Linked DNA regions of Homo sapiens: region 1 is linked to region 2. The links come from fine-mapping of genetic effects on gene expression. Tissue or cell type: cerebellum. Region 2 holds a variant in brackets; the other region holds the start of a gene. All regions are shown on one strand. Distances are between the middles of the regions.

The links. PIP is the estimated chance that this variant, and not a neighbour inherited with it, causes the effect.
Region 1: CEMIP starts here. The variant in region 2 is fine-mapped to the expression of CEMIP in cerebellum (GTEx, PIP 0.96).

The regions. Positions count from the first base shown.
Region 1 is chr15:80,776,328-80,784,430 of GRCh38, reverse strand. It overlaps CEMIP (cell migration inducing hyaluronidase 1), which reads right to left and starts at 5,061. Exons shown (of 30, transcript NM_001293298.2): 1 at 4,817-5,061. RefSeq lists an enhancer at 4,034-4,539 and a silencer at 5,160-5,439.
Region 2 is chr15:80,882,917-80,891,019 of GRCh38, reverse strand. CEMIP (cell migration inducing hyaluronidase 1) reads right to left here. Exons shown (of 30, transcript NM_001293298.2): 7 at 6,666-6,845; 8 at 3,256-3,326; 9 at 2,224-2,319; 10 at 1,428-1,549. Among named protein-coding and RNA genes, the nearest start is that of MIR549A, 45 kb to the right of the region's middle. The variant T/C (reference allele first, on the strand shown) is at 3,636.

The DNA of each region.
Region 1 (8,103 bases), 110 kb after region 2:
CTCACCTCAGAGAGGGCCAAAGAGTGCAGCAGGCTCCTGGGGAAGCCTGTGGCCCTCCCTCCTCCGTGTGATGTCTAAAAACAGGTAAGACAGCAATCTGGCATGGACACCTTCCATGCCAGAACAACTATCTAGATATGCTTTCTCCGTAACAGAAAATGTCTAATGGTGCAGCTCTCCTACTGACAGGAGAGAAAGAAATTCACAGGGCTTTCAAAGACCTGGTCTTCAAAGGTTTTCAAAGTCTGGGCAAAGCACTTTAAACTGAAGTTGCATCTAAACCCCTGATATGACTGCCCTTCCAGAAGACTCAAAGATATCCCAGTGCAAGGAGCCAGGCTGTCCAGCTCCTTGCTCTGAGCAGGTGCCTGTGCAAGGAAGGCCTGACTGCTTGTGCTCCCCAGGGCTCACTCACCTGCAGGGGTGGGGAGGCAAGGATGGATTCAGATTCCTGGAGCCAAGCTGAGTCTAGGGACAGGCCCTAAAAAATAACAGGGGCAGAGAGGAGTAGCAGCTCCTCTCCCTCTGGGTGGCCATGTGTGTTTCCTAACACCAAGGGAACTAAGCAGACAGCAAATGTATATTTGATGACATTTCTCTGCAAGCAGCCTCCGTTCTGAAGAACCAAGCTTGAACAAAGCCTGGTGCCAGGGCACAGAGAAGAAAAAGAAGGACTAGGGGCCTGCCAGAGAGGATAAGATGGCCCCTGAAGAAAGTAGCTAAAGCAAAGAGGTGCAGATATTAATAAAAGTCACCATGACAGTCACCATCCTACTCAAATTAGCAAAGTTTCTACATGCCAGACTTTAGGGAAAGGAGGTTCAGGCCCAGCTGAATAGCTTGCAAAACAGTAGAAAGGAACCCAGCACTGAGAAGTCTCCCCCAGTACCCACTGCCACTTCCAGCCTCCTGCCAACCCAACCAGATACAAGAGAGTAAGAATGTGATCCTTTCCTATTCACTGTTCAAAGGAAACTGAAACTGCCTCCAGATAATGGTAAAAAACAAGCAGTGAGAGATAGCTGATGCTTTACCCTGATAAGATCAAACACCTGGGTATGTGCCATCATGTAGAAAGAGATGTGTAGTCCAGACTTTTCAAAGATATGCTATCTTGTGGATGCAACTCACAAATACAACTTTGTTCCCATTTAGGAACCCAACCTACATGTTTGCATTTCTCTTTTGAGCTATAACTGCAAATGCAAATTGCATTTAATCCATCAAATTGTGATGCTTTGCCGATACCACAGAAGGTACTAAAAAGAGGTCACTTAAGCAGCAGGCTTCAAAGGAGGCTGATGAGAATAATTGAATTCACCCCTTTCACTCTGCTGGCCTTCCCCACTGAATGCCACTCTTGCCATTTGCTCTGTCTGTCCTGAGGACTCAGATACTGTTGCAATAGGCAGAATGCCACAGGACTGATGAAGAGCTCGTTTCTACCACTTTACATGACAGTTCCTCCCCTCATTGGCCTTCACTCCAAGAGTGTCCTGTAGTTCAATAGTTTTCTTACCAGAAAGCCATGGGTATGCTGGAAACTGGAATCTGCATGGGAGTCCACAGAAGACAGCCAGGAATTCAAGGTCATCCAAGGCCCCATGTCCTCCTGCTCTGTTCATGTCACCAGCAGTCTCATAGAAAGATTCTGAGCATCTGTAGCATGTATTCTTCAGCTCCAATCCTTTTAGACGGAAGAAGCTAAGATTCCTTCTGAGCTATTAAGAGCAGAAGGAGGAGAAGAATAAAAATCTAAGAGCACCAGAATGTAAAACTGACAGGGATAAAAACACTCACATGCACGCACACACACACACTTTTGTGGGGGGAGAAAACTCTAACTGGAAGACTGGGTACTATACAATTCCATTCTCCAAACTTCTGTGGTGTGTCATGTATTAGTGATGTCTACCAGACAGAACCCTGAAATGCAGAGCTGGAAGGGACCCTCCAGTCCAGCTGGGATCAAATAAGTGCTCACTGCTCTGGGCAGAGCAAGTATCTTGGTCAGAATCTCACACCTAAGCAAGGCTCAAGCATGAAGTAAGGTGCTTCCTGCTTGGCAATGACCACTCAGTGAACCCCTGGGCAAAGTTCCACTCCATAAAGCTAACCCCTACTTCATCCTGGAGTGATCTAGAAACCAGGCCTTAGAGGCCACTCTCCATCAATACCCAAGAGTACTTCACTTGCAGAAAGACAACAAAGCCACTTAGAAGACCTTGCATTCTTGTGAGAGAACAATCAGGAAAAATTGATCATCTGAACCAGAGGGCTGTGAGAGTATTTTGAAAACAACTTACTTTTATCTTTCCTCCAAGTAGTGTAGGTAGGGGAAAACAGTTGACCGATTTTTATCACATAAAAGTTCTTCCATTTGTCTTTAAATAAGAATTTTTTTTTCATTGTGATCAACTCCAGCATTTTCATCAATTCCATCAACAAGTTCTCGGATGCAAAAATAAAGTGAAGATGGAGTCCCTATCAAACAGTTACTAGGTTAAGAGAGAGGGCAAAGGGATGGTGAACATAATTCAAAAGAAATGCACAACTGTCTTTAAAATATACCTGTAATTGCTACCATTTAAAACGATTTCTCTATGCTCAGCACTGGATTAAATGCTTTACATTGTACCAATTACTGTAATTCTCATAGCAACCCTGCAAGATGGCATTGCGTTATTCCCAGTTTACATATCAGCAAACAGGCACAAAACATTTGAGCAACTTTCCCAAAGTCACAGATGCTGTCTCAAAATTTTTTTTTATAAGAGGTGTTTACTTGTTTTTACTCTCCGTCGGCCTTTGTCAGTCACACACAAAAAAAGCAGACCTGCGTTTCTTGTAATTTTAAAATAAAGGAAGATACACACTTCAGTATGGGTGGAAATGACAAAAAGAGCCCCATCCAGTGTCGTTTCTTACCAGAGAAGGGAGATCTTTAATTTGGTGCACAGATTAAACCCTACAGGTTTTTCCACCCTGTTTCAAGTGACCAACTTGAAAAGTCATCTACTGGGCTAAAAAGGAGCCTTTGGAAATTGCTTTAAGAAAGTCATGGGCTTTGAACAAAACTATTAGGATCAGAAAACCGCATAGTTGCTTTTGCAAATGCATCCGATTGCCTTCTCTATAAATTTGCTCTATTTGATTTCTTCTCCATTCTATCATTAATCGTAAAACTAATATATCCTCCCAATCCCATATGTACTAAATAAATAATTTAATTTGATGGAACACATGAACTTGTGCCCTACACAGAAAACAGTTTGAGCTGGATCCCTAATTATGTCTGGCGTAATTGTATCTGGCATTATCTCACTGCCTGGGTCGGATTCTCAGGGGCCATACTTTCCTAACAGCTCTGAGGGGTCTCCGTGGTGTCATAGAAAAGCCAGAGAACCACAGAGTGCCCCCGGGAGGTCCTGCAGAACTGCCGGCTCAGCTAGGACCTGGTCACAAACCACAGACTCCTGAGGGCTGGGCTGCCTCCTGAGTGGTAATACCGAGGGCCCCAGCGGACTCTCAGTCCCTTTCCTCTTTCCCAGCGCCCCAACGCCTTGGGTCTGGGAAGAAAGCGCACGACTTCCCCGGAGACCCAGGGCCACAGACCCCGAGTGGAGGAAGTGGCTGGGAGCTGTCCATGGTGGCGTCGCGCCTGGGCACGCAGAGCCGCCGGCTCCCCGCCCTCGGGCGCGCCCTGGATCACTTTCCAGACCGCAGGGATGGAGAGACGCGCTCCCCGGCTCACCGTCCCTGGTATGGGGCTGCAGCCAGGCACTGGCTCACACATCAGAAGATTAGTTTTTAAAGGGAGCTCTCACCTGTGGGTAGCGTTGGCTGCTTGGAGAAGGACTCAGGACCTCAAACCCGGCAGCTGGCGGAACTCCTGGGACTGCCGTAGCGTCCGACCCTTGGGGAACAGCGGCTGTCGCAGAGAGTGTCTGCGGCTGAGGACCCAGGGCGCACAGCGCTCCTCTCTCATGAGCACACGCATCCCTTGGGGTCCATTCCAGAATGTCACTGGCCTTCGTTCCCAGAGCGGCGAGCTGGAGACCTGGCCAGCGTTCTGCCAGGACTCTCTGCCTTTCCTCACAACCTAACGCGACCTTTCTTGGAGCCGACGTCCTTTGCCAGGGACCACCAGACCTTCTTCCAGCGATGCCACGTTTGGAGTCTCAGTCTAAACATCAGCAGAGCCCCCCGGGTTCATCTAACATTGCAATTGCCTCAGCTCGGCCCCGCGCCAGCGCGTCGCTGGGTGCCTAGCGCTGTCCCGGAGGCACTGGGAGGCGAGGGAAACTGGGAGGAAGAGCGTGCTGAGGCAGGAGCAGCAGGGCGCAGACCTGTTGCTAGGCGCACGCCCGCTAGAGCTCGGCGTGAGCTGGCTCCCAGTCGGCAGGACACCGAGACCTGACCCTTGTGGTACTCCCTCCTCGGCGAGACACTCTCCCGGGCGCAAGCCCCCGGTGCCATTCAGAAGGGGGAAAATCTACGGAAAGCAGGAGTCTGCCCCCTCTGGATGCCCTCTGGGGACTCCAGCGCCCCCCGGCACCTGCAGCTTGTAAAGCATCACAAGATCTCAGAGAAATCCCACAGAGGACAGTGCCAAGAGCGTGTGCCCATCAACAGACGCATGGACAAACAGACAGATAGAGGTAGACTGCACAGCACAGGGTGGACAGACAAACAGAAACTGAGGCGGGTAACGTTTACCCTGTGCCGGGTGGAGGCGCGGGCCCCCACTTCTTACCTCTCTTCCGTGGCATGGGCCGTCAGCTCATCCCTGACGCCCCCAGCCAGGCCCTCTTACCTCTGGGTCTGTAGCCGAGACAGTGTCACGCCTCGCGGGCCAGGAGCGCAGCGGCCCCGGACGTCTGGTCGCTGACCGCCAGGCGCCGCGAGCTCCCGGGGCGTGGGCAAGCGGAGTGGTAGCTAGTCTGGGAAATCTGGGTTCAGACCCTGGCCGCGCTCAGCCCCGCTGGCTCCCCGCGCCGCTTGCGCTCGCCAGGCTCTGTCCGATAGCACCGCGCTGGGCTCTGCTTGAGCGCTAGCTCCCCGGCCCTCAGCCGAGAGGCCGCTTTTATAGCCACTTTTACTGACTCCTCCCCCGAGGAGCCCCTGACGCCCGCGCGGCACCGAAGCTCCCTCCCTCGCCCCCCGATGAAACTTCCCTCCACGCGCCCCCGCCTTGCCCAAGTGGGGCGGGGGCCCTGTGCCCGGGCCGGACCGGGGCGGGCTCTGGCGGCGGCTCTGGGAGACGCAGACCTGAGCCCGCGGAGCCCGGGTGCGCAGAGTCCCGCCCGCAGCAGCCAGGTGAGGGCGCTGGAGGCCAGGACTCGGTGGAGCGGCCGCGGCGGACCGCGGAGAGCAAGTCCCCGGGCCTCCAAGGAGCCAGGGTCGCCCGTGCCCCGCTCGCGCCCCGGGGCGCCCTCCGAGGCAAAGAGGCAGTGGAGGACAGGAGAAAAGGTCTGCGCCTGCCACAGAATCGCCGCGAGTCGGGGTCCCAGGCTAAGTCTCAGGATCTCTTTTTAACTCAGCAGCAAAAGAGTAGCCCGAGAAAGAGATTTTGGTATTGGCCTAGCAGTTAATCCGAGAGGAAGATGCTTGGGTGTTCACTGAAAGGCACCTTGGTTTGAAACTGGATTCAGACATGCCAGTTACAACTGTGTACAGGATCTTAACCCCTCCCAGTCTCAGTTTCCTCATCAGGAAAATGGGTTCTGTGATGCTTCCTCACTAGAATGGTGAGGCTTAAATGAGATCAGGAAAGTCCAAGTTCTAAGCACATAATAGGTGCTTGGTAAGTTAGAAACATTCCCTGTGGGTAGGAGGGCTCTGTGCCTCTTTAACTGGACAGGCCAAAGTTCTGAAGGGTCAAAGCAAGAAGGTGCGGCTGGTCTAGACATTCCCTCGCGGGAGGAAACAGTACCAGTAGGAAAAGTTCATCACAACACATCCCTAGGGCATATGGAGTCTCCTCTCAACTCTGCCGCTAACCTACTGTGTGACCAGGGCCAGCTACTTCCCCTGTCTGAGCCTCAGGGTGGTTTTTTTGCAGGGAGGTGAGGAGTGTTTGTTTTTCTTGTTTTGTTTTAATCTGTAAAATGAGGGCGTTGATACCTGCTCTCTGCCTCTTCCACCTTTCAGAGTGTGACTCAGCCCCCTTTCCTGGTTAGCAGAGGCCTCCTAGAATATACATTTCTTTCTTCCTTCCTGCCAGTGTTCTCTGAGAACCAGCTCCTCAGGCAAGGTCTCCATTCTGTGTAGTACACACTAGCTCCGGGACTCTAGGTCTGGACTTTAAGGCCAGGCTGTGGTCGGCAGAAGCTGTGGAAGTCTGTGATCACATCTGGGCTGAAGCAGAAGCCTTTGTCACCTGGTTAAACTGGGAAGTCCTGCAATCCACCTCTAGGCCTCTTCCAGAAAGCGGAACTTGATCCTTACTGGGGGTGGTGGTCAGGATTCTCAGCCCTTCTTTGATTTATTGGGAAGTAATGAACTGGATCCAATGGCAAGCCCTCCTCCCCAACCTTTTCTTTCCAGCCGAATAAAATGGAGCCCCCCCGACCCAGGGCCCCTCTCCCCAGTCCTCACCATGATTCCTGTTTATGTTTTTCTTCCTTAAGGAGCTCCCAGAAACCAGACCCACAAAGAGTTGTGTGTTAGGGGTTTGGGGGTGCTGGGCATTTGGCCCAAATGGAGAAAGGTCGACCTTGAATCAGCCTGGCTTGGCACGACATGCAGGATTTTCCATCAACAGACAGTAGATTTGAGGCCTGAGTGGAGCCAGGTAGCTCTCTGGTGAGGGGCTGGCTCCACAGCCATCTGGGAGATGAAGTGGTAAAGGCAGGGTCCTGTCTAGGGATGGGCCCTGAGAAGTGCTTGGCTATGTTTTCTCAAAGCACTGAAATGCCCAGCACATTCCTCTGGTATCCAGTTTTCTTTATCACAGACCAATGCCCAGGGGAAAAGAGCAGTGCTGATGAATTACAAACAGGCTCCGAATGTCTAAAACCAGATTCTCCAGCCAGTTCTCCATTCAGCACTGCCATTCAGCACTCAGTGATGAACGGGGCGTGCCGCGTAATTCTTTATGGATAAATATAGCAACATGACACTGGTGGATTTACTGCCCACACTTTCGCAATCCATTGTCTTGCTCTTATAAATGCAGAGACAGGAAAGAGCTGGTCAAGAAAGGCTGTGTTAGTTTTCTGATTCTTGCCGAAATCTCCCAGCAGAGAGTCTCCAGAGAGAAGGGAAACGCCCATCAATGGTGTGACCTGCCACCCAGAAAGCCTGCCCTTCCTCCATTCTTTGCATTTGCCTCCAACCCACCTTCCTCAGGTGGGATGCAGCCCCCTCAGCTACATCCTTGTGCAGTAGATTGGCCTGCCTGCTCACTGTTGCCTCAAGCTGCCCAAGTCTGGCATCCTCAGTCTGCTGACAGGATGCCACATCTGTTCCCTAAAACAAGGGCCTCCACACTCCACCTGCTGATCAGCAAAGACAGCACCTGACCCTACAGCAGCCTGCCTTATTACAGTTTAAAAGGTTGGCCACACCTGTGGCTCCATACGCCAAGCCTCCAGACCCAGTTGTCCAGGAAAACCTGGAGTAGACGGGTGGAGGACAAGGAGAAAAGGGAAGCAGGATGTAGTTAGGGTAGTGTGTGAGTGGGCTGTGGGCCTCAAGGTTTCCAGCAGACCCACAAAAAATTAAAACTGAATTGGGCATCTCCACCCTTGGAGAAGCAGCTCACGAATAATGAGCATACTTAAGTCCCACCAACAGGGGTCGCCCTTAGACACTGGGCCTGAAGCTGGCATCAGAAAAGGGAAATTCCCAGGCCTGGATCCGGAGGCCAGATTTCCAGCTCTCAGAGCTGTTGATTCCTGTCTTGTTGGACACAGAAGAGGCTGCCCAGCTGAAGAGAGACATGTCCTCAGCTTTTCTGGTGAGTGAAGGCCTGTGCTGGAACTTATGACAGCAAATCCCAGCTCTGAAAGTGGATTTCTATATCTTCCTCTTCAAACTCACCGTCACTCTAGAGAAAGAACTCTTCTTTCCTGTGTTTTATTTATGTCTAAAACATAG
Region 2 (8,103 bases):
AAATCTGGAAAGAATGTGCTGTGGGGGATCAGTGCTTTTTGATTCTGTTGGACCCAAGGAGAATCTGCAACTTGAAACTTAATCTGGGTAAATCCTTCTCAATAACACTGAAGCCATGTGAAGGGAAGAGTCTCAGCCAAATAATGAGAAAGTTTTCCTCAGACTTTGCTAAGTGCAGAACAGAGGCTCCTCCCTTGGATAAGTGGTCCTTCTTACAAGGCAAGACAGAGGGTAGAAGTTCTGCCCAGGATGGTGTGGCGGGGTGAAAGCACAGACAGATGGCCTGGGACTCGAGCTGACCTGGGACCCGAGCTTTGATATTCTAGGAAAAAGTGTTGTACAAATGGGGTAGCTATTTTTATTGGCTGAAGGAGGATAAAATGGGTGGAGATGGCCTTTCTCAAATGCCTGGTTTTTTTTTGTTTTTTTTTTTGAGTCAGAGTCTTGCTCGGTCACCCAGGCTGGAGTACAGTGGTGCGATCTCAGCTCACCACAACCTCCACCTCCTGTTTACGCAATTCTCCTGCCTCAGACCCTGAGTAGCTGGGACTACAGGCACCCGCCACCACACCAAGCTAATTTTTTTTTTTTTTTTGTATTTTTAGTCGAGAGGGGGTTTCACCATACTGGCCAGGCTGGTCTCTAACTCCTGACCTCAAGTGATCTGCCCACCTTGGCCTCCCAAAGTGCTGGGATTACAGGCATGATCCACTGAGCCCAGCTCAAATGACTTCTAATTCTCTATCAAGCATTTAAGCAGCCTCAAATCTTGTCTTGGAATGAGACTGGGCATAAGGAGATAAATCTCATTTACTTTGCCTATTTCTCCTGTCTCTCCTGTTGTTCCCAAAGCCTAGTATCCCACTGGCTCAGCTGGTGAGGCCTGTATATTTACTCAACACTTTCTTGATGGAGCCAACTGAGAACATCAAGGTCCCCTTCAGATGGAATTAACTCTAAGTGAAGATTTTGAGCAAACACTGTCCATTCTATGAATGCTGGCTTTGATTTAGCTCAATTGAGAACAAGGCCATGCGTGTGTTCTCCATCTGGGCTGGCCTGGCCTGCACCCCAAATCCTAGCTGCATCCTGTGCACTCAAGGTCCCTAAGGAAATTGACGGGGAAGTGAGGCTGGGGAGTCCAAACCCATCCCTGTGGTGGGGGCACACTCAGTCATGGCTGAAGAAGCAAGTTAAAGAGAAGGAACTCAGAAGCTGGACCCAGGAGAGAATCTGAGCCCTGGCTTTTGGGCAGATAGTAAGCCTCTGCTTCAGTCTCTAAAGTGGGAATGGTACTCTTTGGCTGACCTACCTCACAGGAGGGCAACGAGAATCACAGCACCCAAGTGACAAGAATGTCTGTGATCTATAGAGTCTTCTTCAAAACAACACATTTCTATTTTCTATTTTTGCTGTGAGTTTGGTACCTGTATATCAATGGGACGATTGCATATTTTTCCTGGGTGAGCTTTCCAGAGGTCTGAAATTTTCTCCCCACCTTTAGTCTGAGATACTTTATCATGATCGAACCACTCCGTCCACTCCACGTCTAGGCAGAAAGCAAACAGCACAGTCAGACAGGAGGTTGTCTGTGAGGGCAAGTCACACTCAGTGTTGTCTCCAAGCATCCTCAGCACCATGGGAACTGAATATTATCTGTCCATGGTTGCACCAGGCTGGGGCATGGATGGCTCTAATCAATCTGCCTATGCTCCCATGTTTTAATTAAAAAATGAGTTTCTCTTAATGAGTTTCTTACTTTTATAAAAGCAATTTATATTCTTTGTTATTGCAAAAGCAAATTAAAGAGAAAAGAAAGAAAATCCATCTGTAAACCCGTTATCCAAGGACTGCAACTAGGATTGCTGCTTTCTGCAATCCCTGCATGTGGGCTATTTGGAGGGCAGGTTCTATTCCTATCTGCATTTCCTGTTCAGTGCCATTGCCTGCCACATCAAAGATATTCCGTGAACTAAGCTGAATGCCGCAGACCCTGACTGAGGTGAAATTGAAATCTTAGCCAGAGGAGAACATCCTTCTGGGCTATGGGCTAAAGTGGCTTGTCTAATTAAAGACAACTTTTGGTTGCACATTTTTAGTTGATTCTGCAAAAATTAAAGTGGTCCTACTGGTATAAGAGATAAATCCTAGTTCTGCAAAGACAGTGATTTCTGGTCTTCTATCCCACTGTTAGGTGTCACCAAATTGTCTGAAACTCCTCACCTTGAACCCACTCACTGGACAAAGAAACATTGAAATATTCGCCATGCTCTGTCTGGAACAATTTGAATACCCGGGCAGCAGCAGAGCCTCGATGTCCTGTCAGAGAAACGAGACCCTTTAGGAGCTGGACAGACCCCCAAATTCAAAAAGTTGTGACTCCAAGGCAAGGAAACCCCCCTACGCACATGGGCATTGACTCATTTCTTTAAAAATATTTTTTAAGTAAATAAAAGAAAATTAGGACATTCATTCACTTGGGAAGAGATGATCATCCATTCTTTTGTTTCAGTTTTGAAAGTTTAGTTCCAGCCTCCCAACAAATTCAGATTGCAGAGCTCTAGCATGTCTCACGGTCTGAATTCCTCCTTGGCATTAGAACTGCAGCGCTTCCCGCAGCCTTTGCTGGGCAAAGGAGGCTACTACTGTGTCCTGAAGGCCCATCTAAAGTGTCGCTTTAGCTCTTTTTTTTTAAATTTTTTTGAGACGGGGTCTCTGTTGCTCAGGCTGGAGTGCAGTGGTGCAATCTCCTCCCAAGTAGCTGGGACTACAGGTGCCCACCACCATGCCTGGCTAATTCTTTTTTTTTTTGTAATTTTAGTAGAGACACGGTTTTACCATATTGGCCAGGGTGGTTTCGAACTCCTGACCTCAAGTGATCCACCCGCCTCGGCCTCCCAAAATGCTGGGATTACAAGCGTGAGCCACCACACCCAGCCTCGTTTTAGCTCTTAAAATACCACCCCTGCTGGCTCTATCTCAGTTCTTATCTTTTCTATGCCAATTCTAGGTTTTTGATTAAGTCAGTGAAGATTTCCATGAAAAGGGAAATATTACTGCAAGTGATGGGCCTTTGGCCAGCATTGGCCTTTGCCACTTCCATGTAAGGTGGCCAGTTAAGCGGCTGCTCACTCATCTAGACATTGGGAGCTGGGAAGCCATGCTCTGAGAAAAGTGAGATGTTCAGAAAAGCCCTGCACCTCTTGATCAGAGAGACACTGGAGGGAATCAGGCCTCCAGCCAGCTATGTATTACCATGATATTCAATATGGTCTTCCACTGAAGATGATGGATTTCCTTTCACAGTTAGAAAACTCCAAGGGTGTCTGAAAAAAAGAAAAACATAACAAAAAGTAAAGTTCTGCACGAGTCTGTACCTGCACAGAGTGTGGGGGGATGGGGCAGAGTTGAAGCAGCGTCAGGTGAAGGAGGGTCCCTCCCTGCTGTTTGGGGGAAATTCATTCACTTGCTGGGCTTCTCTTCTCCAGAAGAAGCACCTTTCTTTGCAAGCACTCCTCTGGGCTTTCTCGCTCCCTGGCCTGCCTGATGTTTGCTCCCTGTGAGCCTCTTCAGCTCCATTCTGGCAGAAGATGGGAGCATGAATCACAAATAAACAAACAAGCCAACAGACCTAC[T/C]ATACCACCCGCCAGGCTCAATTATGTCCTGAAGCAAATGCTTGGATACCTTCAGGAAAACATGTTCCAAGAGAGAAAGGTTATTTCTCTCATGCTCAGCTCCCCTAGAGTTGAGCTCGAGGAAAATACCAGAGGCTAACATGACTGACTGCCCTAGCCATCTGCCTTGGGCCGTGGAAAGGAGAGAAATCTCTCTTCTTCTTAATGGGGAGGGAAGCAAAAAAAGGCTTAAGGTTTTGAAAAATTGTACATCCATCATTCCTCCATGAAAGCACGTGCTGCTTTAGGGCAGCAAGGTTTTCTTACCCCATTTTGTTTTAGGCATTTTGCGTAATGCCTAATGCAGTAATGAAGTTCAGGAGACGCTACCCCCCAAAATGGCAACTTGGCATATTGAATATTTCAAGCTCAAGGAATTTGTGAAATGGCAGGAAGGAGTTTCTGACTTTCCCCTGAAGCAGGTCTAAGACCCTTATGTGAGAGGGCCTTCCTTATTCTGAGAAAAAGAGCATCCTTATCCCCAAACACAGAAGGAAGCCAAGAGGAATCTGAAGGAACAGAGACCTTGCTAAATTTCCCCTGTTTACTGTGTTTAACTCAAGCCCCTTGTCCTACCACATTTTCCCACAGCTCTCCACTTCATCAAACCTCGTGTACAGACACTCAGGTTTAACTGTGTATTTGGGTCCTCGTTTCCTTATGAAGGCTCCCATGTCGTTTAAAACTTACTATCTGAAATACATTTGTGTGCTTTTCTCCTGTTAATCAGTGATTTGTTGCAGGTGCTCCAGTCAAGAACTTAGAAGAGTAGAAGGAAAGAGATTTTCCCCCCCTACAGTAGCCCTCTCTTACTATAAGCTATCAATCGATTTTGGTGCTGAATAGCTCTCATTATTCTTGTTTTGATCTCTTGTCTTGGAAAATGAATCACTATTGAACGGTGTTTAACTGAGGTTGGGGATTTAACTGTCCACTTTCCTGCTTAAATCCTTCAGTAGCTCCCCATTGCCCTTTGGATAAAATCCAAGCTCCTTGGCACAGATTCGAAGGTCCTTTGCCCCCGCCCCCCTCCAGCCTCACCTCTCACCCCTTGCCTCTCTCATATACTGCCACTGCCTCGCCATCCCCACCTTCTTTGGGAGAGGCATGCTTTTGCCCCTGGGCCTCCGAAGCTGCTGATCTCTCTATGGGAACCAGCTTGGCCTCATCCTCATGTGTTCGTCTGCACTAAACTACACTTGCCCACTCTCTTGCTCTCTCATGCCCCGTCACCAATTTCCATTCATACCTGCCTTCCCCCAAGAGTTCAGGACACCTGGTCTAACCGAGTACCTCCCACCAGTATGTGTTCATTTCCTGAATGGGTGAACAAATGAAGGGTCCAAGTCTCAGTTCTCCTACTGATTTTAGATGCTTCAAGTTTATCACTCAAAGAATGTCTCTATACAAATGAGGTGTGGACGTGTAATTCCCACCTATGTATCTCCTTTGCCCATGTGAACAGCCCTGGCAAAAGACGGCGAGTGCCCACCTTTCCAGTGGCTCTTGCTTATAAGGAGAAAATAGTTGCTAACATTTATGGAGTGCTTATTCTGTGCCAGACATGATGACAAATATTTTGTTCATATTATCACATTTAATTGTCCTATAGTCCTTTGAGATAGCTCCTCGTATATCCCATTTTACAGATGCAGGACCAGGCAAAGAGAATGAGTCACTTGCCTGCAGTCACACCTCCTGGAAGGTGCAACCCAGACTCAAACTCAGGCCACTGGATGCCAGATCTTGGGCCCTTAGCCACTTTCTTCTTCTGCTGAGGCCGTAAATAGTCAGTTTCCTGGTGTTTCTAACTCTCACTGTAAATTAATAAACTGGCCTTTTGGTTTATAAAACAACAGAATGGAAGTGCACTTAGTGTTTGCTAACAAAGGAGGCTTGCAATGCCAAGGTGTCATTGTCATCTTTGGCTGCTTAAGTTTCCTGCTTGAGTTTCCCGTCCAGAAGAAGTAGTCTCTGGGCTGTCGGAAAATGCACTCTGGAACCTGGAGCACCCCTCCCTTGCCCAGGGAATTTCTGCCCAGCCAGCAAAATTGCTTTGCTCCAAGCCCAGAAAAGTCTCTGGCTTCCCTCTGATCTTGCTCCCAGATGTGGGAAGCTGAAGGGAGGAGCATCGTAATCTCTAAACAGCCATGGGACAGATAACCTCAACTTTCCACTGAGCTGAGATTTGATTCAACATGATAAAAAGGTGTGCTTACCATGGACACAGGGAGGGGAACAACACACACTGGGGCTTGGCAGGGGCGAGGGGCAGAGGGAGGGAGAGGATCAGGACAAATAGCTAGTGGATGCTGGGCTTAATACCGGGGTGATAGGTTGATAGGTGCAGCAAACCATCGCGGCACACGTTTACCTAGGTAACAAACAAGCACGTCCTGCATATGTATCCTGGAACTTTAAATTAAATTAAATTTTTAAAAAAGGCATTGTTTACTGTGGGGCAAACAGCTTCCTCTTAGTGTCAATGTGTGTGCATGCCAATGTCAGGCATGATGCTGCACTCCAAGGCAAACAAAACACATATTAGATCATGTCAAAGGGTTGCTTCTCCTTGGTCATTTGCCTCAGCAGAGACACTTCACATAATCTCTGAAAAACCCCAAGCCATGACATGACCTCTTTACCAAAGAAAGAGAAAATGAATATTAGCTGTGCATTGGAGGCATGGCTCTTACACACAGTAGATGCTCACTTAATATTTTGTAAGTGGCCGACTGAATGAATGAGTTCATATAAACAGCGAGCTTTTGTTTGTTTTGAGTGAACTATGCTTGTAAGAAAAAACAAGCATTCTTTAAGAACAATTCCCAAATATGCCAAACTCAGATGTCAAATGCAAATGCCTGCATCCACTAGGTCATTTAGGATGGTACGGCTGTGGGGAGAGGAGATGGGAAAGGTAAATTCTCAGTGGGATAGAGTGGCTTCAATGTTCCAGAGCCCAGTGGAAGCCGAAGTGAGGGGCAGTACCTAAATCCAAGGTGCAGGAAGTGTTTGCTTCCCAATTTGGTCATCGCCTTCCTGGCCATGTCATCCAGATTTCGAGAACCTTCATCATTCACTGCAACAGAAAGGATCCTGCCATCGGGCACCGCGTTCAAATACTGGACCAGACGTTCACTCTCTTTCTTGGATCTATAGGTGTCAAACCTAAAAAGGGCAGAGAGAAGAGATCTGAATAGTCTTGACCGCAGCCAAAACAAAGAGCTCTAAGCACATGCCTGTGCTGCGACAGCTAACATGCTATCCGATGATCCCAGGGCTGTGATTCTTAAAGAAGGAAGCCTTTTCTTTAAAGAGCAAACAAGTTTCATTATTTTGCATACCATACAGTGATATCCAAGAAGAAGGGTTTTGACTTGACCATAATGTTCATTCGCTGAGTAAAATGCCAAAGAAATGATTGCAGCAGTGAAGACTTCAAGCTCCAGGATGTTGAGTGGGTCACATACTTGAGGTCTAGGCCTTTTGATGTTCCCCTTTCATCCTGGAGGCAGAGGATCATGCCTCTTGGAAGAGCCTGACTTTAGGAGATAGTTCAGATAGCTAGGGCATTAGGAATTTATATCTCTGATCCGAGTAAAACACCAATCCCAGAATTCTTGGAAATGACATGGAGACTATCCCAAATCCCTTCTCCCACCCCTAGAGCAGCTTGCACAGAGTTACTTGCAGAGATCCAACTTAAAGTTTATTTATTGACCTGTTAATGATTCTTATGATAATGCATCTTAGAATCATTAAAATGTAATCTCTGATTCACACAGTAGCAGTCATATAACATTTGAGTATTGTAAATGTTGTTGCATTGCTATTTTCTCCTGTTTATTTTTTAAAAATTATTTTACTTTATTGTGGTAAGAACACTTACCTTGAGATCTACCCTCTTAAAATTTTAAGTGTACTATCCAGTATTTTGCAATGTTAGACAGCAGATCTCTTATAATAGCAAGAACTAATAATCTCCAAATTGACTGATAACCTGCCCTCATACACGTAAAATATCCATGAAATACAAATCACACACACAAAATCTATACCCCTGGTGAGAATAATTTACAAAGCAAAGACACAATTTTGTAATGATTCCAACTCTTCCCCATGTAAGGATAAAGATTTTATGCAATTACAGTAGAAATTCCTAAAGAGTATGTCTTGGAACTTAAGGAAAATAGTTCTAAAATGAATCTGGGAAAGTAATCTAAGGAGGTTTTTGGAAAAGAAAAACAATGTTGGTACCGGTGGTAGCTGGATAGCTGCTCCTGGGTCCTCACACTTGTTTCCAACTGTTGGCACAATCTGGTCCAGCCCCACCTAACCTCGCACCCTCCACTGACCCTCCCCAGGAAGCTCCTGCTGCAAGCCTAGTGCTTCTCAGTGCCCAGTGACCACCTCACCCGCCCACTCC